Linked DNA regions of Homo sapiens. The protein of the gene in region 1 interacts with the protein of each later gene in a biochemical or structural test. Each region holds a gene or a part of one and is shown in the gene's direction. Other genes may lie near its edges.

The links.
Region 2: the proteins of CSTA (region 1) and IVL form a complex in vitro, tested with the Homo sapiens proteins (one study listed by BioGRID).
Region 3: the proteins of CSTA (region 1) and PI3 form a complex in vitro, tested with the Homo sapiens proteins (one study listed by BioGRID).
Region 4: the proteins of CSTA (region 1) and KRT1 form a complex in vitro, tested with the Homo sapiens proteins (one study listed by BioGRID).

Annotation. Positions count from the first base shown.
Region 1 is NC_000003.12:122,320,468-122,328,268, forward strand, and holds the start of CSTA (cystatin-A), read left to right. Parts: upstream 1-4,780; 5' UTR 4,781-4,825; coding exon 4,826-4,891; intron 4,892-7,801. UniProt on the Homo sapiens protein: This is an intracellular thiol proteinase inhibitor. Has an important role in desmosome-mediated cell-cell adhesion in the lower levels of the epidermis.
Region 2 is NC_000001.11:152,904,024-152,911,570, forward strand, and holds the start of IVL (involucrin), read left to right. Parts: upstream 1-4,522; 5' UTR 4,523-4,566; intron 4,567-5,755; 5' UTR 5,756-5,774; coding exon 5,775-7,532; 3' UTR 7,533-7,547. UniProt on the Homo sapiens protein: Part of the insoluble cornified cell envelope (CE) of stratified squamous epithelia.
Region 3 is NC_000020.11:45,170,026-45,177,052, forward strand, and holds PI3 (elafin preproprotein), read left to right. Parts: upstream 1-4,876; 5' UTR 4,877-4,897; coding exon 4,898-4,976; intron 4,977-5,835; coding exon 5,836-6,110; 3' UTR 6,111-6,111; intron 6,112-6,344; 3' UTR 6,345-6,519; downstream 6,520-7,027. UniProt on the Homo sapiens protein: Neutrophil and pancreatic elastase-specific inhibitor of skin. It may prevent elastase-mediated tissue proteolysis.
Region 4 is NC_000012.12:52,674,223-52,677,429, reverse strand, and holds the end of KRT1 (keratin, type II cytoskeletal 1), read left to right. Parts: coding exon 1-114; intron 115-245; coding exon 246-371; intron 372-934; coding exon 935-1,155; intron 1,156-1,685; coding exon 1,686-1,720; intron 1,721-1,812; coding exon 1,813-2,237; 3' UTR 2,238-2,694; downstream 2,695-3,207. UniProt on the Homo sapiens protein: May regulate the activity of kinases such as PKC and SRC via binding to integrin beta-1 (ITB1) and the receptor of activated protein C kinase 1 (RACK1). In complex with C1QBP is a high affinity receptor for kininogen-1/HMWK.

The DNA of each region.
Region 1 (7,801 bases):
CACTTTGCCCTTGTCCCAAAATTTCCACTCCTAGATATATAGACTAATGACTTGTTGATAGCAGATTTATTAATAGCCAAAAACTAGTATCAATCCAAATGCTATCAGCAGGAGACTGAAGAAACAAACATAGCATGTTATTACACTGGAATACTACACAGCAATAAAAAAGAACAAACTACTAATAAATCTGATAACATGGATGAATATCAAAAACATTATGCTAAGCAGATGAAACAAAGAGCACCTACATCATACTTCCACTTATATGAAATTTAAAAACAGGCAAAACTAGTGGTTGAGCACATTGTAGTGATGGGAGAGAACTTTCTGGGGTGATGGAATGTTCTATATATAACAATTGTAAAAAATGTGGGAACATATTATGTAGCTGTGCACTTAAAATTCGTGCATTTTACTATGCATAAATTATGCCTCAGTTTTCAAAAAGGAAAAGAAATTCCACCTGGACTCCTAAAATACGTGTAACCCAAATAAGAACTAGGAAGTCCCCAGCCACAAATATGTGGGTAGAATTACCTCGTCCTCCAGTTTAGAGAAGGGAAACCCTAGGCCTCCCCAAGAGTTTGGCTGATCTCTAAGGTCTGGCTCTCTTGATTCTCTTCTGATCACTCTGTTTTGCTCCACAGTGATTCAGGCATGAACTTAGTGTGCTCTTCCTTGACCCTGAAAAAAATAAATACCCTCATGCTAAGCTTTTAGCAAGTCCAGTTAGTTTTTTGCAGGCTTGGCGTCGCAGCAGGGGTCTCGCCATGGAGTATGGGCTGCTCTCCTGCCATCCCGCTGGCTGCACTGTCTCTCCCCTCCTCAACATGGAACAGAAACTCTGCTTTTCTCAAGCCAGGAAGCCAGACAACAATGCGGGTACAGGGATTCAGCTTCCATGCACTATGATGGCCAGAGCATGTTGAGTGTTGAGGGTTTAGTAGAAGAGAGGGAGTTAGTTCGTGTTTTCCTAATATACCAGTCTACACATTGCCTCCAGTTTTATCTTCCTAAAGCACAAATGGCTTCTCTATAGCTCTGACTTTTCAGTGACCTCCATTACCTAACAACTAAAGTGTAAGATCGTTCACCTGTTTTTCATGACCTGTCCTCAGTCAACCCTGCCCCCCACTTTCCCTCTTCACCACAAGGATAGCCAGGAGGAATAACTATGTCCTCCCTTGAACACACACTTCAAATAGGGCCTTCACAGTCATTTTTAAAGCACTGTATTGGTGCAGTAGGAGTTAAGACTCTAATGAAAAACATTAGAGGAAGAAGTATAACAGCGAGACCAAGAGACACACAAAGAAGGCATTCAAAAGGCAGTGCTTTTATATTCTAGCTTTTTGGGGGTGTAACTTACATATGATAAAGTCCACCCACTTTTTTATTTTTTTATTTTTTTGGTGTGGAAACAAGACCACCCACTTTAAGTGCACAATCTGATGAAGTTTGGTAATCATATACTGTTGTGTAGCCACTATCGCAATCCATGTATAGAACAATTCCATCTCCCTAAGACGTTTTCTTGCGCCCCTTTACAGTGCATTCCATCCCTCACCTCAGCCTCAAGCAACCTCTGATCTCCTTTTTGTCACTATAATTTTGCCTCTTCTAAGGTCTCATCTAAATGGAATAATATAGTCCATGGCCTCCTGTGTTTGCTTTCTTTCACTTCTTCTTACATTGTCTTGTTTTTGAGGTTTACCTATGTGATTTAATGTATTACTATTTTGTTCCTTTTTATTGTTAAGTAGTATTCTATACTGTGACTCTACCACAACTATTCTTACCATTCACCAGTTGATGGACAAGGAGTTTTCTTCGGTTTTGAATCATTATGAATAATGCAGCTGTTAGCATTCATATGCCAGTCTTTGTGCAGACATATTTCATTTCTCCTGGGGAAATAGCTAGCAGTAGGAACGGTGGGTTGCATGGTAAGTGTATGCATCCACACATCTACTCCTGGCAATGGGTAGAAGCGCAATTAGCTGGGGAAGTTCAGAGCCCAGGCCTGTAACTAAAGCTGGAGACAAGCCCAAATTCTCAGTATCTTTATGGTGCAAGAGCTCTAAGCCAACAGTAAAGTAAGAACTGGGCTGGGGCTTGTGTACCTCCTAGGACCTGGTAGCGGAAACCACCCCATAGGAAAGCCCCACAAACCAGCCACAAAAGAGAAAACTCACATAAAAGATAACTCCTGTGGCAGATGAGCTCACAGACAAGAAATATGAAATATATGAGGATATCTAGCTCCAGAAACACAGTCTGCATAATTCATACCAAAAAATCCAAAAAGCAATCTTAAAGGTACCTTTAAAATAAATGTGTATTTAATCAACTGTTTGTTTAACTTAAGTAAACAATTAATACAGAGATATGAATTGTGCTTTTCTCTTTTGCACTTCCTTGTGTGCGACTCTTTCCCTGTCAATCAGAGGCACACATACTACTCTTGAGAAGAACTAGGATTGTTATAGGAGGAATACAAAACACAAAAGCAATATTTGCTTTGGGGAAGTTTTTACTTCTAAAATAAATTATTGAGAATCAATAGGAAAAAGCTGAAAGTACAGGGCATAGACCCTAGAAAGAGAAGGGTAGACTTGTGGTTTACCATATCTCTTACCACTGGGGAGATTCAATAAGGATGGCCTGGACTAGGATGTCAGCAGACAACTAAAAATGGGCTTCAGGCTTGGAAAAACGTCAGGGGCCTTAATATGAAAGGACTTGACTTGGGGAGGTCACATGAAGATGAGTAGAACCAGTGGCCTATGAAAGCTGAGCCAAAGTCTTCAGATGACCTGTGGCCTCTTGAGGGAGCACCTTGTCATCCACATTCGCTGTTCTTCTTAATCCACAGGGTAAAGGCATTCTATGGAGAGATACTTGTGTAGCACCCCTTAGTTTAGCCTGTAAGACACTCACTTAGCTCCAAGAGTTTGCCAAGCACCCACCAAACATCATTATAAAGAAACAAGCACCTCCCTGTATTGTGATATAGAACAGTCTCCAAAATATATTGTTAGGAATAAAACAAAAAGTATAATAATTTATGTAGGATACCATTTTTATAAAAGAAAACCTATATAGATGAATATGTATCTATGTGTGTGTGTGCGTGTGTGTGTAGCCAATTTTTTTTTTTTTTTTTTTTTTGAGACACAGTATTGCTCTGTCACCAGGCTGGAGTGCAGTGGCGCGATCTTGGCTCACTGCAACCTCTGCCTCCCAGGTTCAAGCGATTGTCCTGCCTCAGCCTCCTGAGCAGCTGGGACTACAGGCGCACGCAACCACGCCCAGCTAATTTTTGTATTTTTAGTAGAGATGGGGTTTCACCATGTTGGCCAGGATGGTCTCAATCTCTTGACCTTGTGATCCACCCACCTCGGCTTCCCAAAGTGCTGGGATCACAGGCGTGAGTCACCGTGCCCAGCCTCCAATTATTTTTATATTTGTATGTGTAAAGAATGTCTCTGAAGGATACAGAAGAAGTTGGTGCCAATAATTGTCTCTGGAGAGTAGAAGGGTGTCTGAGGAATTAAGTGAGTGAATAATTCCTTATATTGTAAAGCCTGGTTCCTTCCAAACATTTTTATCCTGTGTATGTATTATATATTCCCAAAATTGAATAAAATAATATACATAAATATTCACACAATGTGGCCATTTTGCTTCTAGATAAGTTGTCTGCAGAAGCCCTCACTCATGTAAAAAGGAGAAAAAATGCAACGTTGTTTGTAAGAATGAAACACCAGAAACAACGAAAATCGTCATCAATAGAGAAATGAGTATGTAAAATATGAACTAGAATATAGCAATTAGATAGGTAGACTAAATAGATAGGTCTAGCATAAAATAGCATATCACAGTTAAAGGAAATGAACAGGATTGATCTATCTGTGGATTGATCTATGTGTATATCAACATAGAAAGGCTCAAAAACATGTTGAATAGAAAAAGGAACATAACATAGAATATATTTAGCATACAATTTAAGTGAAATTTTAAAGACACACCAAGTAAGACATATTTTAATTTTAAAGACACACATATAAAAATGGCCTGGAAGGATATTAATTCACCATGTACTTTGCCTTCTGGAAGGCAAGGTTGCGTGGGGTGTGGGGCTTCCTCCATATCTGTAATATTTTATTTCCTAAAAATAACTACAAAAATAAAAAACAGCAAGCAAATATGACAAAAGGGTTAAAAGTTTTAATTCTGAGTGATAGAAATATAGATGTTTGTTATTTTATTCTTTGTGTTTTACCGTATGTTAAACATTTCCAGATATTTAAATAAGAGTAAAGAAGACACATCCAGCCAAGGTCCTCCAGATAGATCCTTTTGCTTTCTTTCTAAAGTCAAGTAAATTCTAAACTAACCTTGACATTATTAGTAAGTTTTGCTTTAAAAAAAATAAAATTTTGTGTTAGAAGTTTTAAAACATTTGGAAATTCTAGTTGCGGCTTCAGATTTCATAATTCAGATGATGCAACAGGATGGAACCATTGTCAAAGAGAATGCAGGGACGTTTGATGCTTGTTAGGACATGACTCCTGTACTTGCCCATTTGTTCATCCTCCAACCCCTCTTTCTTCCAAATTCCATGTAGCATATTCTCTCCAGGAAGCAAGAAGACTTGCCTGGCGGCATACTCATTTTCCCCATGCCTCTTTGCTGTTTGTGGAAAATAAAGCATTCTATAGGCGGAGCTAGTGAACGCCTCTTTTAAAACACGAGTCTCCACACTTCCCTGTTCACTTTGGTTCCAGCATCCTGTCCAGCAAAGAAGCAATCAGCCAAAATGATACCTGGAGGCTTATCTGAGGCCAAACCCGCCACTCCAGAAATCCAGGAGATTGTTGATAAGGTGAGTTGATGCCATTCAGGAAAAAGTCTGAGCCAAAATCTTGATTCATAAGTTGTCCCTGTGGAAAGGCTGTGGTTGAACATGAAAACCAGAAGTTTAGGATGTTTGTGGCTTTGTTCAGGTTTCTTTACAACTAAGATGAAATAAGAGTTTTTCAGATGAAGCCTCAAATAATCCCCAAACTGTGAGTGTGACCTTGAGCAAATCACATTTCTTCTCTGAGCTTCATTTTCTCCATGGGTAAAAGAATTTGTATTGTATCTTCTCTAAAGCTCTTACAAGATATGATTCTAGAATTACTAATTCAGTTTCTGATGAAACTTTTCTAATCTCACCAAGTGAAGCCAACGTGTAATTGAAGTCTAAGGTTATTAACAATTTGATGAAGTAGTCTTGGAATGCACTGCAGGGAAAATTTTTTTAAATAGATTGAATGAAGAATAATATTGTAAAGGCAATCTACTTACAAACTTCATACACTTTTGCCCAAATAGATAGTGTTTTAGTCTTTTCATAGTTAAAAGGTAATTCAACTAATAGAACAGAGGTGACAGTCTATAGTGACTCCGAAATGTCATAGGGCACCAAATTATATATGGAAAAATAGAACTCAATGTTGTTAGCAGATTGATGTGTTTTTCACTTCTTCTTTTTTGTTTTGTTTTGTTTCATTTTTAAGAGATGGGGTCTCACTCTGTCACCCAGGCTGGAGTGCAATGGTCTGATCACGGCTCACTGTAGCCTCAACTTTTTGAGTTCAAGCGATCCTCCCCACTCAGCCTCCTGAGTAGCTGGGATTACAGACATATGCCACCACGCCTGGCTGATTTGGGGGGTTTTGTTTTGTTTTGTTTTTAGAGATGGCATTTCATTCTGTTGCTAGACTGGTCTTGAATTCCTGGGCTCAAGCCATCCACTCACCTAGGCTTCCCAAAGTATTGGGATTACAGGCGTGAGCCACCACACCCATCCCTGATATATTTTTCTTTGTGTGATTAGCTATCATCTAGCTATGTAGTAAACATTTATTTGCATATTTTATGAAAGGAAAACATGTACAAATTACTACTTTAGGTTTTTAGTTTGTTGCCTTATTTTCTTATATTATTCCTTCTTATTTTTTCTCTCTGAAACATCATTCTATGACAGCTTGGAAAACAAGATCAGCTTTTTGTGTGATTATAAGAGTTGGGATCCTGTATATTCTGGGAACTAGAAAGCTCTCTAAGGGGCCAGATGCCTAGAATCCCATCACTCATTCTTGGGGACTAATTATTTCTCTTTCAAGAGTTCTTTTTTTAAATAAATATCTTGGAGCTTTTTTCCTGGGAGATGATATTAAGTCAGTAATGTCTTCATGTGAATCCCCAGATCAGATCAATGTTCTCAAACTTGAATGTGCACATGAATCACCTGCACGTCTTGATAAACCTTAGATTCTGATTCAGGGGACCTGGGGTAGGTCTGAGATTCTGCATTTCTACCAGACTCCCAAGTGCTGCTGCTGCTGCCACCCATGGCCTTGCTTGCTGGCAGGACCAGAGATATATGGCATCCTACAAGGCCAGTGGGAGATGGGGCTTTAAAAGTCAGGGTGCAGGCTGGGCTCAGTGGCTCATGCCTGTAATCCCAGCACTTTGGGAGGCTGAGGCAGGTGGATCACAAGGTCAGCAGTTCGAGACCAGCCTGGCCAACATGGTGAAACCCCATCTCTACTAAAAATACAAAAATTAGCCGAGCATGGTGGTGGGTGCCTGTAATCCCAACTACTCAGGAGGCTGAGGCAGGAGAATTACTTGAGCCCAGGATGCAGAAGGTGCAGTGAGCCAAGATAGTGCCTGCACCCCAGTCTGGGCAACAGAGCAAGACTCTGTCTCAAAAAAAAAAAGGGCCAGGCGCAGTGGCTCACACCTGTAATCCCAGCACTTTGGGAGGCCGAGGCGGGTGGATCACGAGGTCAGGAGATCAAGACCATCCTGGCTAACACAGTGAAACCCCGTCTCTACTAAAAAATACAAAAATCAGCTTGGCGTGGTGGCGGGCGCCTGTAGTCCCAGCTACTCGGGAGGCTGAGGCAGGAGAATGGCGTGAACCCGGGAGGTGGAGTTTGCAGTGAGCCGAGATTGCACCACTGCACTCCAGCCTGGGCAACAGAGTGAGACTCCGTCTCAAAAAAAAAAAAAAAAAAAAAAAAGTCAGGGTGCCAAAATAAAATTTGTCTATTTCATTTGAAAAATGAAGGTAACACCTCTTGCCCTACCTATGTCAGAGCTGTAAGGACTAAGTGAGATAATGTGCATAAAAATGACTTGAAAATGAAAAAGAAATGTGCATAGGTGAGGTATCACAATTGTTTACTTCAAATTTGTGGCTGAAAGCATCCCTGACCCTAAAAAAATCCCCCTGAGACTCTCTAAGGAACAGAGCTGTAGGAACATAGGGAAAAATAAATTTGAAATAGAGACAGTACAGAAAATTTTAATGATTTTTAAAAAAATCTATCACTCGATTAGCAAGAATTATTAATTTTTAAAATAAGAAGCTACCAGAAGGCCTTGCATTGCTAATAACACCTATCTGTGAGCCCCATCTTAAATTATAAAATTAATTTGAAAGTGTGTGTGTGGCAGGGAGGAAGCTGCTTCCCTTTGGCTCCAATGTCATCAGAGAGGTAGAATGAGAGATAAGTATTAAGAACAGCTACCTCACCCCAGAAAGGGGTTTTGCAGTTTTTAAAAGCTTGACCTCCATTCGAGCTCTGATTTCATCTTCATAACCCCTGGAGCAGGCAGGGAAGATATTGTGTCTATCTTGCAGATGATGAAACCAAGATTCAAAGAGATTAAGAGTCACTTAATTAAACTGGGCATGGTGGCTCAAGCCTGTAATCCCAGCACTTTGGAAGGCTGA
Region 2 (7,547 bases), on another chromosome or scaffold:
GGTCATCCCAAGGGCATTTTGGCTGAATGAGAGCCAGAGAAAACTGACACTCCCTCCAGAAAACCCAGAACTGGCCATGTTGAGGTAAGTGACTGACTCACAGAGCTAGAATGTGTCTTTGAAGTCACCTAGTGGAACCTGTCACAGCCATCAGATGCTCAAGCACCTAGCAAAGCAGCCTGATGGGGAGGAGAGCCCCTGACTGGAGGTCAGGACACATGGGTTCCAGCCCAGCTCTATCACAGCCTCGCTGTAGGCTCTTGGGCAACTCATGTTCTCTCCAGACTTCAATTCCTGTCAGAAGACAGATGAGCCCCAATGGTGAGAAGTAGGCATAGGTGTGTTAAGAAGCACCTGCATTCTAAGCTACTTGAAGGCAGGGATTGTGTGTTTTCTATTCATAACCCTATCTCCAGTGCCTTGCACATAGTAGAGGCTCAGTAAGTGTTGGTTGAATGAATACATCAATTATATTAACAACTTTACCTTGTGACCTGGTATTAGGCAAAGGCATTACTTCTTTTTTTGTTGAGGTACAATTCATATAACATAAAGTTACCATTTTAAAGTGAACAGTTCAGTGGTGTTTAGTACATTCATATATTATGCAACCACCAACTCTATGTCGTTCTATAACATTTTCATCATCCCCATTAGCAGCTACATCCCATTCTCTCCTCCTCTCACTTCCTGGCAACCATCAGTTTGCTTTCTGTTTCTATGAATTTACATATTGTGAATTTAAGTTATTATTATTAGTTATTATTAGATAGATAAATAGAGAAGCTCCTATGCACCAGGCGCAGTGTAAGGCATTTCCCATGCATTCTCTGAGGACTCCTCCATCTCAGACATTCTGCTGCTGGACAGAGAATCAACTGTACAAAATGTGATTTCCCCAACAATGAGCCCAAAGGGGAGGGAATTTCCTTTAGTTGGAGAAGGGGGAACTGAGTGTCTCTTTCCTCTACTACTGGCAGCCTTTATGCCTCTGCTCCTCTTGCTGCCACCAAGAGCAGAGCTGTGGCTGCCCTTCCACAGCTCTCAGATCCAAGAACAAAGGCCAGAACTGGTGACTGAGATCCAGTGATCCAACAAGCCCAGGAGAGAAAGCTATAAGAAGATGTAAGAGAGGAAAGCAGGTCAGGACAGACAGATCCACCCAGAAGCCCAAAAAGGATGAGTCAGCCCTCTTGGCCCTTTCTTGGTCTCATCTCCCTTCCTTGAATAGCAGACGGGCACAAAAGGTGAGAGAAGAGCCAAGGTCAGGTCCAGGAAGCAATGGAAAAAGATGAGGAGGATTCAAAGTTTGTGGGGAAGGTCGGGCACCGTGGCTCACGCCTGTAATCTCAGCACTTTGGGAGGCTGAGGCGGGCAGACCATGAGGTTAGGATTTCGAAACCAGCCTGGCCAACATAGTGAAACCCCATCACTACTAAAAATACAAAAATTATCCAGGCATGTTGGCACATGCCTGTAGTCCCAGCTACTCAGGAGGCTGAGGCAGGAGAATCGCTTGAATTGGGGAGGCAGAGGTTGCAGTGAGCCAAGATTGCACCACTGCACTCAAGCCTGAGAGACAGAGTGGACTCTGTCTCAAAAAAAAAAAAAAAAAAAGAAGTGTGTGGGGAGACAACTAGTGCAGGTTGGCAGGTTGAGGACTGAGAGCCGCTGATGTAGGAGACAGTGCCCTGGGGAGAGGAGGAGGCTTGTGAGAGGGAGAGGAGGCTAGCAGCCTCAGAGCATGGGGCAGTGCCATACCAGGAAGCAGATGAGGCATGGCTATTCAAGATGAGAATGCATGATTTTCTGGCCCAAGTCACCTTCCAGGACCATCTGCTATGACCCCTCTGGCAATCTGTTAAGAGCTGTCCTCAGCATCCCTCCCCACAGGACATTGAATCACCATAACCAATTTCTTCTGCCCCCTACCACTAAGCAACAGCTCAAATAGGTTGCCTCACTCAGGAGAGAGACAAACTAGCCAGCTTCTGCCTCCAAATTTGAAATAGCCAGTGCATCCTTAGGCTGGGGCAGAGTTGGGGCCAAAGCTTCTCCATGTGTCATGGGATATGAGCTCATCCTTATTATGTTGGGTGGGGGTTGGACAGTTACCCAGACTTGTCATGTGGACCTGGAGCTTATGAGGTCATTCACATAGGCAGTGAAAGAACCTCTCCCATATACGTGAATGCCTGTCTCCCAAATGGGGCAACCTGTGGGCAGAATAAGGGACTTCTCAGCCCTAGAATGTTGAGGTTTCCCCAACCCCTCCCTTGCATACACACACACACAAACACTCCCTCAGCTGTATCCACTGCCCTCTTTCCCACACCCTAGCTTTGCCCAGCAGTCAAAGGCTCACACATACCATCTTCTCCTTAAGGCTCTTATTATGCCGTGAGTCAGAGGGCGGGAGGCAGATCTGGCAGATACTGAGCCCCTGCTAACCCATAAGACCGGTGTGACTTCCTTGATCTGAGTCTGCTGCCCCAGACTGACTGTCACGGGCTGGGAAGAGGCAGATTCCCCCCAGATGAAGTCAGCAGCAGAGCACAAGGGCATCAGCGCCAAAGTAAGGATGCTTGATTAGTTCTTCAGGGCAGAGTGGGCTGTGCTTCCTCTGCCCCAGAAAATGGCACAGTCCCTGTTCTATGGGAAAAAGAATGTGAGGTCCCTGGGTGGGCTCAGGGAACAGAGAGGTCATGAGGAGGGGATAGCACTGCAGAAACCAAGGGTGCCTTGTGAGTCCTCCCTCTGTCTTTTTAGGCATGATCCAGGAACATGACAAAATTAGTGCTTTAAATAGATTTACTTGGGGCTAAGAGAAATGTGCCTGTCAGGAAAACTATGGGGAATCAGGACACTTCTCAAAATTAGCCCCACTGAGTATTGTCTTTATAATTCCTTCTTTTTGGATTAGATTGTAAAAAAGAGAGTGTAAATGAATGATGTCCATATAATAAGTTATTAGCCAACCATTAAAAAGAAAGGGAAGAAATAAATCAGTTTGGTTTTTACACACACATACAGACACACACATATAAACATTGATCAACACTGAAATGTTTAATAGTCATTATTTTCGGGTCGTAAAATTCACTGTTCTTCAATGAATACTTGTAGAGCACATATTATATGCAGTAGTTTTGATAGGTTCTAGGGGTATAGTGGAAAACATACCAGGTATACGCTGCTCTTAGCTTATTTTCCAGTGGGAAAGATAGACAATAAGCAAGTGAACAAATGCAAATAAATTACTCTAGATTGTTATAAGTGAAATTAAGTACCAATCCTTTAGATATGGTACACAGAGAAGGATCTCTGACAGACCCCAACATTGACACTGAAGCTGAAAGGCATAAAAGAACCAGAGACCTGGGGAGGGGCCGGTGGGCAGAAGGAGAGCAGGTGCCAAGCCCCCAGGTGGAGAGCTCTGGGCTCATCTCAGGAACCGAAGGCCCTCAGTGAGGTAAGAATATACCTCTCAGGGAGAGATTGACATGAATTGGGGCCCCAGAAGAAGGCAGAAGCCAGGTACCCAGGGTCTTTTAAACCACGGCAGTGAGTTTGAATGTTATTTCAAGTGTGCTGGTGCACTGTTGGCACGGGGGAGAGATGTGCTCAAATCCCCACTCTGAAAGATTTCTTAAGCTATTTCTAGAGTATGATTTACAACAGGAAATGGATGATTTGATTCTGATCTTTATACCTTCATGCATTTAAAAAAGTACTTAAGAAAGTAGTTTGGTTTGTCATTATAAAAAGCAATACTTATTTTTATATTGTGTAGATTCAATCTTGTTTCCTTGCCTAGAGTGGGCCGTGCTTTGGAGTTCTTATGAGCATGGCATTCCTGAGAACTTCTCTAACTGCAGCCTCGGGCATAGAGGCTGGGCAGCAAGTGGCAGCAGCAGAGGACTCCTAGAAGCCTTCTACTTGACTCTACTTGGCCTAAAGTCAAACTCCCTCCACCAAAGACAGAGTTTATTTCCACATAGGATGGAGTTAAAAAATATATTCTGAGAGAGGAAGGGCTTGTGGCCCAAGAGAACACCCCAGAAATACCACCCCTTCATGGGAAGTGACTCTATCTTCAAACATATAACCCAGCCTGGACATCCCCGAAAGACACATAACTTTCCATTTCATGCCCTTGAAAGTGAATCTTTTGGCCTAATAATGAGAACAAACTCATTTTGAAAGTGGAAAAATTGAGATTCAGAGCAGAAGTTTGACTAAGGTCACAAAACAGTAGGATGCCTCACTCAGCTCCCTGTGCCTAGGTCAGAAAAGCATCACAGGAATAGTTGAGCTACCAGAATCCTCTGGCCAGGCAGGAGCTGTGTGTCCCTGGGAAATGGGGCCCTAAAGGGTTTGCTGCTTAAGATGCCTGTGGTGAGTCAGGAAGGGGTTAGAGGAAGTTGACCAACTAGAGTGGTGAAACCTGTCCATCACCTTCAACCTGGAGGGAGGCCAGGCTGCAGAATGATATAAAGAGTGCCCTGACTCCTGCTCAGCTCAGCACTCCACCAAAGCCTCTGCCTCAGCCTTACTGTGAGTCTGGTAAGTGTCGGATGGTAGAACCAGGGTTGGGACTCGGGACCTCCAACAGCATACGATGTGGTGGGGGTGGGCAGCCTGGGTGGGGGTGGGCATTACTCTGGGGCTGGATTCAGCTGGACTTTCATTCTAGGGGGACTCGAGTCAGAGTACTGAGAGAAAAGTGCCTTGGCACAGAAGTGCAGAACAGAGAGTAATCATCCTATGTCCCATCTTTTCTTGTGACCATATTTTTGGATTTGTGTGTGAGAGAGAATTATGGAAGGGAGGAGGGGAATAGCATTCAACTTCTTTCCTAAACCTCTTGGGTTTTGACAGACCATCATTTTGCCTTCTTTATGGAGGGAGAGGTTCAGGGAAGAGCTTCTACCTTTTGGCTATGCTGCACAGAGGGATGGCAGAATGGGGAAACCTTTCTATTTGGAGAAACCTAGGCAGAGCTGGGACAGGAAAACTCAACTTAGAAGTATAAGACTTGGAAGAACAACCTCCAACTCTCAGCAACCTTCCAGCTCCCGCAGCCCCACCCCAGACACAAGGACTGCAGCTAAACCTCAGAAGGTCAGGAGAGAAAGCAGCCCTGGGGTTGAATAGGCCAACCTGCTGGCTTTACAGGGGGGAAAACCAAATCCCAGGAGACTAAGTGACATGCCCAGAAACACACAGCATTCCAATGGGAGATTCAGGCCTAGAGCATGTCCTGTGGCTCCAGTCTGGAGGTCACACCATGACCTCTTAGGTCCTCTCTGGCACGGCCTATTGGTTTTCTAGGACTTGGTGTTCTCCAAGAGACATTTCATTCCCTAAGGCCTTACTCCTCACTGTGACATAATCCCAGAACGCATCTCTGCTCCTTGGTCAGTGAAGCGATGAGGGTGGACACAAGGACTAGACAAGAGCAGACAGTGAGCTGGCACCTGACCCACCCTTGCAGAACAGCCCTGCAGACAGATCTCCTTGTTGGCTCTCACCTGGGAACAAGGAGGCTCCTAGGAGGACCTTTCTCTGCCCCTCCACATTTCCACCCTTCTCTCTCTGCTGCTTTTGGGAAATGATAGTCCAGAGGTGGTAGAACAGTACCCTGCCCAAGGGAAGAGGGGATGCTAAAAAACCAGATACTTCTGCAGATTCCCAAGGTTTCATCTATTTCCTTTGCCTTCAGCCTGTGCATCAGACCTCTTCTGTCTTTCAGGTTGACAGTAGCTTCTAAGATGTCCCAGCAACACACACTGCCAGTGACCCTCTCCCCTGCCCTCAGTCAGGAGCTCCTCAAGACTGTTCCTCCTCCAGTCAATACCCATCAGGAGCAAATGAAACAGCCAACTCCACTGCCTCCCCCATGCCAGAAGGTGCCTGTCGAGCTCCCAGTGGAGGTCCCATCAAAGCAAGAGGAAAAGCACATGACTGCTGTAAAGGGACTGCCTGAGCAAGAATGTGAGCAACAGCAGAAGGAGCCACAGGAGCAGGAGCTGCAGCAACAGCACTGGGAACAGCATGAGGAATATCAGAAAGCAGAAAACCCAGAGCAGCAGCTTAAGCAGGAGAAAACACAAAGGGATCAGCAGCTAAACAAACAGCTGGAAGAAGAGAAGAAGCTCTTAGACCAGCAACTGGATCAAGAGCTAGTCAAGAGAGATGAGCAACTGGGAATGAAGAAAGAGCAACTGTTGGAGCTCCCAGAGCAGCAGGAGGGGCACCTGAAGCACCTAGAGCAGCAGGAGGGACAGCTGAAGCACCCGGAGCAGCAGGAGGGGCAGCTGGAGCTCCCAGAGCAGCAGGAGGGGCAGCTGGAGCTCCCAGAGCAGCAGGAGGGGCAGCTGGAGCTCCCAGAGCAGCAGGAGGGGCAGCTGGAGCTCCCAGAGCAGCAGGAGGGGCAGCTGGAGCTCCCAGAGCAGCAGGAGGGGCAGCTGGAGCTCCCACAGCAGCAGGAGGGGCAGCTGGAGCTCTCTGAGCAGCAGGAGGGGCAGCTGGAGCTCTCTGAGCAGCAGGAGGGACAGCTGAAGCACCTGGAGCACCAGGAGGGGCAGCTGGAGGTCCCAGAGGAGCAGATGGGGCAGCTGAAGTACCTGGAACAGCAGGAGGGGCAGCTGAAGCACCTGGATCAGCAGGAGAAGCAGCCAGAGCTCCCAGAGCAGCAGATGGGGCAGCTGAAGCACCTGGAGCAGCAGGAGGGGCAGCCTAAGCATCTGGAGCAGCAGGAGGGGCAACTGGAGCAGCTGGAGGAGCAGGAGGGGCAGCTGAAGCACCTGGAGCAGCAGGAGGGGCAGCTGGAGCACCTGGAGCACCAGGAAGGGCAGCTGGGGCTCCCAGAGCAGCAGGTGCTGCAGCTGAAGCAGCTAGAGAAGCAGCAGGGGCAGCCAAAGCACCTGGAGGAGGAGGAGGGGCAGCTGAAGCACCTGGTGCAGCAGGAGGGGCAGCTGAAGCATCTGGTGCAGCAGGAGGGGCAGCTGGAGCAGCAGGAGAGGCAGGTGGAGCACCTGGAGCAGCAGGTGGGGCAGCTGAAGCACCTAGAGGAGCAGGAGGGACAACTGAAGCATCTGGAGCAGCAGCAGGGGCAGTTGGAGGTCCCAGAGCAGCAGGTGGGGCAGCCAAAGAACCTGGAGCAGGAGGAGAAGCAACTGGAGCTCCCAGAGCAGCAAGAGGGCCAGGTGAAGCACCTGGAGAAGCAGGAGGCACAGCTGGAGCTCCCAGAGCAGCAGGTAGGACAGCCAAAGCACCTGGAACAGCAGGAAAAGCACCTAGAGCACCCAGAGCAGCAGGACGGACAACTAAAACATCTGGAGCAGCAGGAGGGGCAGCTGAAGGACCTGGAGCAGCAGAAGGGGCAGCTGGAGCAGCCTGTGTTTGCCCCAGCTCCAGGCCAGGTCCAAGACATTCAACCAGCCCTGCCCACAAAGGGAGAAGTATTGCTTCCTGTAGAGCACCAGCAGCAGAAGCAGGAGGTGCAGTGGCCACCCAAACATAAATAACCACCCGCAGTGTCC
Region 3 (7,027 bases), on another chromosome or scaffold:
TTAAAGACTTAAATGTAAAACATAAAACTATAAAACCCTGCAAGGTAACCTAGGAAATATGATTCTGGACGTAGAACTTGGTAAATATTTCATGATGAAGATGCCAAAAGCAATAGCAACAAAAACAAAACTTGACAAATAGGACCTAGTTAAACTAAAAAGCTTCCGCACAGCAAAAGAAACTATCAGCACAGTAAACCAACAACCTACAGAATAGAAGAAAATATTTGTGAGCTATGTGTCCAACAAAGGTCTAATATCCAGAATCTATAAGGAACTTAAACCAGTTAACAAGCAAAAAACAGACAACCCCATTAGAAAGTGGGCAAAGGACATGAACAGAAACTTCTCAAAAGAAAACATACATGTTGCCAACAAACAAATGAAAAAATGCTCAACATCACAGATCATTAGAGAAATGAAAATCCAAACAGTAATTGAGATAGCATCTCACACCAGTCGTTATAACATAACATATGCTGTCAAGGTTGTAGAGAAAAGGGAACATTTATACACTGCTGGTAGGAATGTAAATTAGTTCAGCCAGCATGGAAAGCAGTATGGCAATTTCTCAAAGAACTTAAAACAGAATTACCATTCAACCCAAGATATTCCATTAATGGTTATATACCCAAAGGAATATAAATCATTCTATCATAAAGACACATCCATGTAGTATGTGAATCACAGAACTATTCACAGTATCAAAGACATAGAATCAACCTAATTGCTCATCAATGATAGACTGGATAAAGAAAATGTGGTATGTAAACACCATAGAATACTACGAGTCATAAAAAAGAACAAGATCATGTCCTTTGCAGCAACATGGATGGAGCTGGAGGCCATTATCCTAAGCAAACTTTCACAAGAACAGAAAAGAAAATACCACATTTTCTCACGTATAAATGAAAACTGAACATTGAGTACATATGGACACAAAGAAGGGAACAATGGACACTAGGGCCTACTTGAGGGTAGAGAATGGGAGGAGCGTGAGGATCAAAACACGAATCGAGTACTATGCTGATTACCTGGTGATGAAATACTTCTGCACACGAACCCCCCCATGACATGAAATTTACCTATACAACAAACCTGCACATGTACCCCTGAAACTAAAATAAAAGTTAAAAATAAAACCCCAAAATTAGACACACAGTCTGTTCATGAGGCTTGATGGAAACAGCAGGCAAGTTTATCCACTACTGGTGGGATTACAATATGGTACAACCCCTATCAAGGGAAATATGGCAATATTATCAAAATTTCAAATGCATTTCACCTTTGTATAAGCAAATATACTTCTGGGAATCTGGTTCACAAGAAAGCAAGCTAAGAAAGGCCACATGTGGTATAGTTTGTAATGGCAAAATATTGGAAACAACTTGCGAGGGTAGCAATGTGGGTTTATTGAAAGCTAAGGTAGTCTATAAATGATTCGCTCTGCAGCTTTCTCTCTCTCTCTCTCTCTCCAAGCAATCAAAGAACTAGAACATTACTAATAACCAACAACTTAAATCAACCCGTGTCCTTCTCACCCATCCAGAATGTTTTCTTCTCTCGTTTCCAGAGTTAGCCACTATCTTGTATGTCATTTTTATAGTTTTTTCATTTTTTATGTATCCCTTTTTGAGCTTTGCTTCATATGTAAATATGCCTAGGCAATATATTTCCCAGTTCTCCTTCATTTGAGTTTTATGACAAGTGGGTAATTCTAAATATTGTCACTGTGGACTTGTGTTGTTTATTCAACATTATTTTAATTATGGTCATATTGTGCATGGCTGTAATTCAGTTATTTTCATAATTGTATAATACTTCCTTGCATTAATATGTCATGACATATTTATGCATTAATATGTCATGACATATTTATCCAGTATTTTAGTATTGGTAACATGGACTGTTTCCAGTATGTTATTGTTAAAAACAGTACTTTTATGAACATTATTGTGCATGTTTCTTGGTAAACATGTGGAAATATTTTCCTTAATTAAATCTTTAGGAGTGCAATTGCTGAATTATAGATTGTGTACACATTCAATTTTACTAGCTGATGTCAAACTGTTTTTAAATGTTTCACCAATATAGACTCTCATTAGTAATGCATAAAAGTTTCTTTTCTACTACAAATCAATAAGAAAAGATAAACAACCCATTCAAATCTAAAATAAAAGTTGAAATTAAATAAATAAGTAAATAAAAGGTAAGATACTTGAATTGGCACTTCACAAAAGAGGATAGCCAAATGGATAATAGAAATATTAAAAATGGGCCGGGTGCAGTGGCTCATGTCTGTAATCCTAGCACTTTGGGAGGCCAAGGCAGGTGCATCATCTGAGGTCAGCGGTTCGAGACAAGCCTGACCAACATGGTGAAACTGCAAAATATAAAAATTAGCTGGGCATGGTGGCATGTGCCTGTAATCCCAGCTACTTGGGAGGCTGAGGCAAGAGAATCACTTGAACCTGGGAGGTGGAGGTTGCAGTGAGCTGAGATTGTGCCATTGAACTCCAGCCTGGGTGACAAGAGCGAAATTCCATCTCAAAAAAAAAAAAAAAAAAAAAAGGAGTATTAAAAATGGGTCAGCTTCACCAGTTATTAGGAAAGTGTAAATTCAAATCACAGGAAATCCCACAAGATGTCCACCTGAATGGCTAATGAAAAGGCAAATCATATGAGGCATTGGTGAGATTATGGAGCAAATGGAATGCTCACACATTGCTGATAGCAGTGTGAATTGGTACAATGATGTTGGAAAATTGATTGCAGTATTTATGACAGCTGGATGTATCTATACTCTGTGATCTGTACTCTGTGATCCAGCAATTCCATTCCTAACCATATATCCAAAATAAATGCATACCTATGTTCTGCAAGAGATATGTACAAGAATATTCATAGCAACACTATAATAGCTAAAACCTAGAAATATCCAATGTATATTGACAGTAGAATGAATATATAACATTTTTGGTATTTTTCATAGAATACTGTACAGCAGTGAAAATGATGAACTACAGGTGTAGACTTCAAAATGGATGACTCTCAAAAATATAATGTTGAGCAACATAAGCAGGACATATGAACACTATACCTTAGATTTCATTTACATACAAATTGAAAAAGTATACTAAACTGAATATATATTTCAGAATACAGACAGAAGTGGCATAACTATAAAGGAAAGCAAGGGCTAATTACCATAAAATCTTAGGAAGCAGTTATCTCTGGGGAGGAAGGAGAATGAAGCAACTGAGGAGAGGCATGGAGCATAGATATAGCAAATATTCTCCTCCTTTACCTGGCAGCTCATTTTAATGCTATTCTTTAAAGAATATAGGTATTTTCTGTGAGCTTTTTATTTGTTTGTATGGCTTATTGTACAATGAGCTTTTGTGTAAGGTAGCCAAAGGCTTCCACAGTCTGACATTCGTTTATGTCTCCCTCAGTTTCAGGCTTGGTGGGCATGTGGTCAGAGTCTAAATCGACAAGGGGTGGGGATTTCACCAGCTGAATTAGTGTCCAATAATTAGTTTGTTACCTTCCCTGCCTTAACTCCACCTCAACTCAGTGACTTTCTTAACTCAGATTCTGTCCCTGACAATACCCAACTTCAGGATATTCATTTCTATTACTCAGAACTTTTGGTAACAATGACAGAATAGTAAGTCAGACTAGCTGAAGCAGAGGGCTAATTTATTGCCTCATAACCCAACCATGAGAAGGGTGTGTGAAGAACTGCTCTCAAGGTAAAGGAGGGAAACCTGGCTGTGTCATCTGAATCTTCTCTCACCATCACTTCTCTCCTTGTCTCAGTGTATTAGAGTCGTTTTTCTCAGACAATTGATCTCCACCCCCAGACTTAGATAACCACTTCTGGAATTCCCTGGTTCATATATATCACCTTTTCCAGAAGAAGGAACCCCCGTTTTCCCCTTTCATTACTCATTCAAATAAAATATGTTAATAGACCAGACCAAGTCTCACACACAACACACACACACACACTCACACACACACACACACACACACACCCCTACCTGTGGTCAGGGGTCAGGCTTTCATGATTAGCAGTCCCCATTAGACTCACAAGTTGATGGTTCAAAGAGACAACAATTCTTCACAAGAAACAGGGTGCTGTTCAAAGAAGTGGGGAGGCATGCTGGACACACACACTGTAGATGTCCAATGTATACATGATACATGTTTTCTACTACTTTCTGATTATTTTCTCCCTACCACTGTGATTTCAAGGGCATCATCCCTCTTCAGACCTAGAATTCCACCTTCCAATTACTTTCTTGATGCATCTGAAAGGCCGTCTCTGAAACAGCAAAGTGCAATAATTAGTCATTATGTATTCAAGGCAAATTTGTCTTACAGAGTTTTTTGCAGGACCAGGGAAGAAGGAAGGAAATGCCCAGTTTGATGCTGGGAGTGGTAAAATGATAAAGTAGATCTGGGTGGGGTTTGTAGCACCAGAGCATAATGGAGAAACACCTTGGTTTTGTAATCAAGACTGGATCTACCAGTGACTTGCTGAATAACCTTCGGTGATTCCTTTCTCTTCTTGGGTCTCACTGTATTTCAAAACATGAAGAATTTCATTGTAATGTTACCTAATAAGTGAGCCAGCACTTCTACTCTGTGAGAAAGTAGGAAAACTCTTGGGACAATCAGAGATGATGTGATGTAATGTCCATTAGTTCTTCCTGTGAATAATCCTGAGGGAAAGCCCCCAGGTCCCTCCCAGAATGGGGTGGATATTTCCCAATACAGCTAAGGAATTATCCCTTGTAAATACCACAGACCCGCCCCTGGAGCCAGGCCAAGCTGGACTGCATAAAGATTGGTATGGCCTTAGCTCTTAGCCAAACACCTTCCTGACACCATGAGGGCCAGCAGCTTCTTGATCGTGGTGGTGTTCCTCATCGCTGGGACGCTGGTTCTAGAGGCAGCTGTCACGGGAGGTGAGTGAACAGGTGACCTGCTGGGCTGGGTTGGACTAAGGGGAGACCCTCTGGGACACCCTGGGCCAGGACAGGGAGCACTTCTGAAGCAGTAGGCAGCACTGGAGCCCAGATTTCAGCTTTCTGTTCTTTGCCATCATATTCAGAAAAAATAGGACTTTGGCTGGTGGACTCCACGTGCTTTCCACCTCAGTGACTGAGATATCAGGACTGTTTGTGGAAGTAATGTTGGTATGTGGCCTTGGCCTCAGATGTCAATACCTGTGCAGAATGTGCAATAAAATAATGAACTCCAGGATTTTAAACCTTGGGTGTGGACACAGTCCCCCGTTTCTCTGCCCCATAAAAGCACTGGAGTAATCAGTACTCTAAAAGGAGGTTAAGAAACAACAAGCCTTCAGGAATCATGTTGTTTGAGGACCCCCATTTTATAAGGAGGGAACCAAAAATGTAGAAATGAGTGAGCAATTGCCAAGGTAATTCCCAGAGCCAGGATGGGGCTCAAGTCTCCTAGTATGTGGCTCAGGGTTCTTTCCTACTCCAATGCACTTCCTAACAAATGACAATGTGTCCTCTTCACTGCTGGGTGTCACCCCAGTCTGACCACTGCTCCTGAGAGACTTGGAGTGGAGGAAGGGGGAAGAAACAAATACTCAAGGGAACTCTGGTCCAGTAGACCACCCCAAAAAAGGAAGAGCCTTCCAAGAGTGTAGCTCCCAGAGGTGTACCTTCCCTACTCAGGCCATGGTTTGAGGATGCTGCAGTAAGCAGTGGATGGACCCAGACCCAGAGGAAAGACATGGCAGCTGAAGCAGAGGCTTACTGGGTATAAATGTGGGCTCGTTTCTTCTTTTAACAGTTCCTGTTAAAGGTCAAGACACTGTCAAAGGCCGTGTTCCATTCAATGGACAAGATCCCGTTAAAGGACAAGTTTCAGTTAAAGGTCAAGATAAAGTCAAAGCGCAAGAGCCAGTCAAAGGTCCAGTCTCCACTAAGCCTGGCTCCTGCCCCATTATCTTGATCCGGTGCGCCATGTTGAATCCCCCTAACCGCTGCTTGAAAGATACTGACTGCCCAGGAATCAAGAAGTGCTGTGAAGGCTCTTGCGGGATGGCCTGTTTCGTTCCCCAGTGAGGTGAGCACTAGCTGGAGAACGAGGAGACCCCTGAAGACACAAAAGAAGGCTGAGCGGTGGGGAAGCATCCCAGGTTGGTGGGAGGGAGGTTGTGGGAGGTGACAGAAAGACTGGGAGACTGAGGGGTCTGAGAGGCTATAACCAGAGTGCCTAGAAGGATGATCTGTCTTCCTCACTGCCTCTGAGTGCTTTGATGTGCTGACTCTCACCTCTGATACTCTTCTCTTCCACAGAGGGAGCCGGTCCTTGCTGCACCTGTGCCGTCCCCAGAGCTACAGGCCCCATCTGGTCCTAAGTCCCTGCTGCCCTTCCCCTTCCCACACTGTCCATTCTTCCTCCCATTCAGGATGCCCACGGCTGGAGCTGCCTCTCTCATCCACTTTCCAATAAAGAGTTCCTTCTGCTCCACTTGTTTCTGGTTCCTATGACTTCTGGGCTCCTGGATGCTTTGGGGAAATGGATGTAGAATTGGGACTTCTTCTCTCCAGTGAAGAGGGGAAACGGTCCCATGGTGAAAGAGAGCAGGGCGGGGGGAGGAAACAGGAGGCACATTGCTAGGGCTTCATATTACAAATCCAATAATCAGCCCCAGTGCTGCCAGCTCCTTTTCACCAGGAAATGGAAATATGGAAATCTTGCCTTTGGCCAAGGACCAGGAAAAACACAAAACACAAAAAATAAATAAACATTACATAAACCATAAGCAGGTCTTTTTTTTCCAATCCACCATCAGTCCTGACCTGGCTACTGTCGGCCTTACCAGTGTGACCAGCCAACCCTTATGGCTGCAACTACAGCTCCCCACTTCCTTCTCATTAATGTTTCCCAGGAATCTATATCTTTTCAACACCACATAGAAAGGATGATGTTACAGATGCTGCGAAACTCCTGCTCTTTAGAATTTCACTGGTTTATG
Region 4 (3,207 bases), on another chromosome or scaffold:
ATGGACAACAACCGCAGTCTCGACCTGGACAGCATCATTGCTGAGGTCAAGGCCCAGTACGAGGATATAGCCCAGAAGAGCAAAGCTGAGGCCGAGTCCTTGTACCAGAGCAAGGTGAGTGGGCTGAAAGCCTAGCCAGTTTCCCTGAAATGGCTTGTCTTGCTATCCTGTGTTATCTCATGTATGTGTGCCTGTGCCATGCTGAGTTCTGCCTACATTTAACAAACGCTATCTACCATCTTTAGTATGAAGAGCTGCAGATCACTGCTGGCAGACATGGGGATAGTGTGAGAAATTCAAAGATAGAAATTTCTGAGCTGAATCGTGTGATCCAGAGACTTAGATCTGAAATCGACAATGTCAAGAAGCAGGTATGTGCTTTCTCCTTCTACCACTCAGCTGTATGGAATGGGGGTAACCCTCAGGTAAAGGGCGAGTGCTTTCCTAGTTTTGAATCTTGCAATTCATCCCAAGGCTACATTATTATCCCTGGTTCCTTTTGTGACTATGCTAGTTTCCAGAATGCAGCCATCATGCTGGGTTCTCTTTAGGGAAATCTGTGAGAATGGCCTAGTAGAGAAAGATGGGATGGTCAATGTGAGTGATCTAGCCTATGACCCAAAGTGGACTTAAGAGTTGGGGAGTGAGAGGAAGGGCAGCCAGGAGGTTTTAGAGTAGGTGTTTAGAAGAATGTCAAGTCTGTAAGGGTTGTAGGAGCCTTGACTCAGGGCCAAGAGAGGCTGTTGAGTTATCCCTAAGGTCTTTTAAGGAAGTCAACATGGTGATGTGTTATCTGGAGGTGGGTGTGAGATGACTTAAGGCCAAGTGGTTCTGTTGGACTCATTATTGGCCTCACTGGAGTGGGGAGACCAATTGGGATGAGGAGGCCTAGTGGGGAATGCATATTATGAGAGGGTGTCATATTCTTTTTCAGATCTCCAACTTGCAGCAGTCCATCAGTGATGCAGAGCAGCGTGGCGAGAATGCCCTCAAGGATGCCAAGAACAAGCTGAATGACCTGGAGGATGCCCTGCAGCAGGCCAAGGAAGACCTGGCCCGCCTGCTGCGCGACTACCAGGAGCTGATGAACACAAAGCTGGCCCTGGATCTGGAGATTGCCACCTACAGGACCCTCCTGGAGGGAGAAGAAAGCAGGTGAGGAAGGGACGCTGGGAGTCGAACCTCTTCTCATGGTCTTCCTTCCTTGCAAGCTGATTGTTGTTGAAGATGCAGCCATCTGATTGCAGCTTGTGCTGGGTATGGGGAAATGAAAAGTACACGGAGCAGGAGGAAGGACCTAGTTTTACTTTGGGAGCTGGAGTCCCAAGCTGTTTATTTTTTTCTTCTAGGGCTGTAACATATCTAGAAAGAGCTTTGAGGTGGAGCAAATTATTCTTTATCTGGGCTGCCTCAGATGGCAGCTGGCCTAAAGTCGGCATCTTTAGAGGGGGCCTTCATTGGCTGCAAGGCTCTTGTCTCGTTTATATGGGAATTTCTCCGTGTTTGTACTCTTGCTGAGAAAAAATGACAGGTCTGGGAGGCCAGAGGGGATTGGATTAAGTTTCAGATTAAGTGCATTGGAGAAGACCCAGATGGGGAAAGTCTTCAAGGTGGTGGAGCGGGGAATGGGGAAGCGGTTTGGGAAGCTGGAGTGTCCTGAGGAATTTTCTTATTTTCTCCTACAGGATGTCTGGAGAATGTGCCCCGAACGTGAGTGTGTGTAAGTACAAGTCGATTTCTCAGGGGCATGTGCAGGCTTTGTTGGGCTGGAAACGGAGTTGAGGTTGAAAATAACTGAGCTTCCTCTTGCAGCTGTGAGCACAAGCCACACCACCATCAGTGGAGGTGGCAGCCGAGGAGGTGGCGGCGGTGGCTACGGCTCTGGAGGTAGCAGCTATGGCTCCGGAGGTGGTAGCTATGGTTCTGGAGGTGGCGGCGGCGGCGGCCGTGGCAGCTATGGCTCCGGAGGTAGCAGCTACGGCTCCGGAGGTGGCAGCTATGGCTCTGGAGGTGGCGGCGGCGGCCATGGCAGCTACGGCTCCGGAAGCAGCAGTGGGGGCTACAGAGGTGGCTCTGGAGGCGGCGGCGGCGGCAGCTCTGGCGGCCGGGGCTCTGGCGGCGGGAGCTCTGGAGGCTCCATAGGAGGCCGGGGATCCAGCTCTGGGGGTGTCAAGTCCTCTGGTGGCAGTTCCAGCGTGAAGTTTGTTTCTACCACTTATTCCGGAGTAACCAGATAAAGAGATGCCCTCTGTTTCATTAGCTCTAGTTCTCCCCCAGCATCACTAACAAATATGCTTGGCAAGACCGAGGTCGATTTGTCCCAGCCTTACCGGAGAAAAGAGCTATGGTTAGTTACACTAGCTCATCCTATTCCCCCAGCTCTTTCTTTTCTGCTGTTTCCCAATGAAGTTTTCAGATCAGTGGCAATCTCAGTCCCCTGGCTATGACCCTGCTTTGTTCTTTCCCTGAGAAACAGTTCAGCAGTGACCACCACCCACATGACATTTCAAAGCACCTCCTTAAGCCAGCCAGAGTAGGACCAGTTAGACCCAGGGTGTGGACAGCTCCTTAGCATCTTATCTCTGTGCTGTTTTGGTTTTGTACATAAGGTGTAAGCAAGTTGTTTTTCTTTTGTGGAGAGGTCTTAAACTCCCCATTTCCTTGTTTTGCTGCAATAAACTGCATTTGAAATTCTCCATGTCTCGATCGCCCTTGTTTACGGCACTGTCTAACCTGGATGGGTGTTTTGTGAGGTAAAAGAAGACACTAGAGCCACATGGCATATGGGAAAGTCATGCACACAAACATGAGAAAAATGCAGAGGCCAACCAGGCAACATTTCACCAGACTGGAATCACAGAGAGAGCAAGCACTTTCCCAGATGGTGGGGATGTCATGGAGAAATGGAGAGACCGGGTGACAGGTTTTGTTCATTTGAGAAGGCTTTCTTGAAAAGGGCAGTGAGCAAGCAGGTTGGGAGGAAGAGGTGTGGCATTGAGAAGAAGGGAAAGTATTGCATGAAAAAGTAATTCTTCACGTGGAACAGCCAGTAAGGAGGGGCATGAGTAATATAGGGTCAGCAGTTACTGGAGCCAGAATACAGACTTTGGCCTGGGGAGTTCAAGAACTAAGAGTGGTAATAGAGAGTTGGATATTCCATTTCCCTTCTCTTTTTGTGCCACCACCCAAAGCTCTGCATAATCTAAG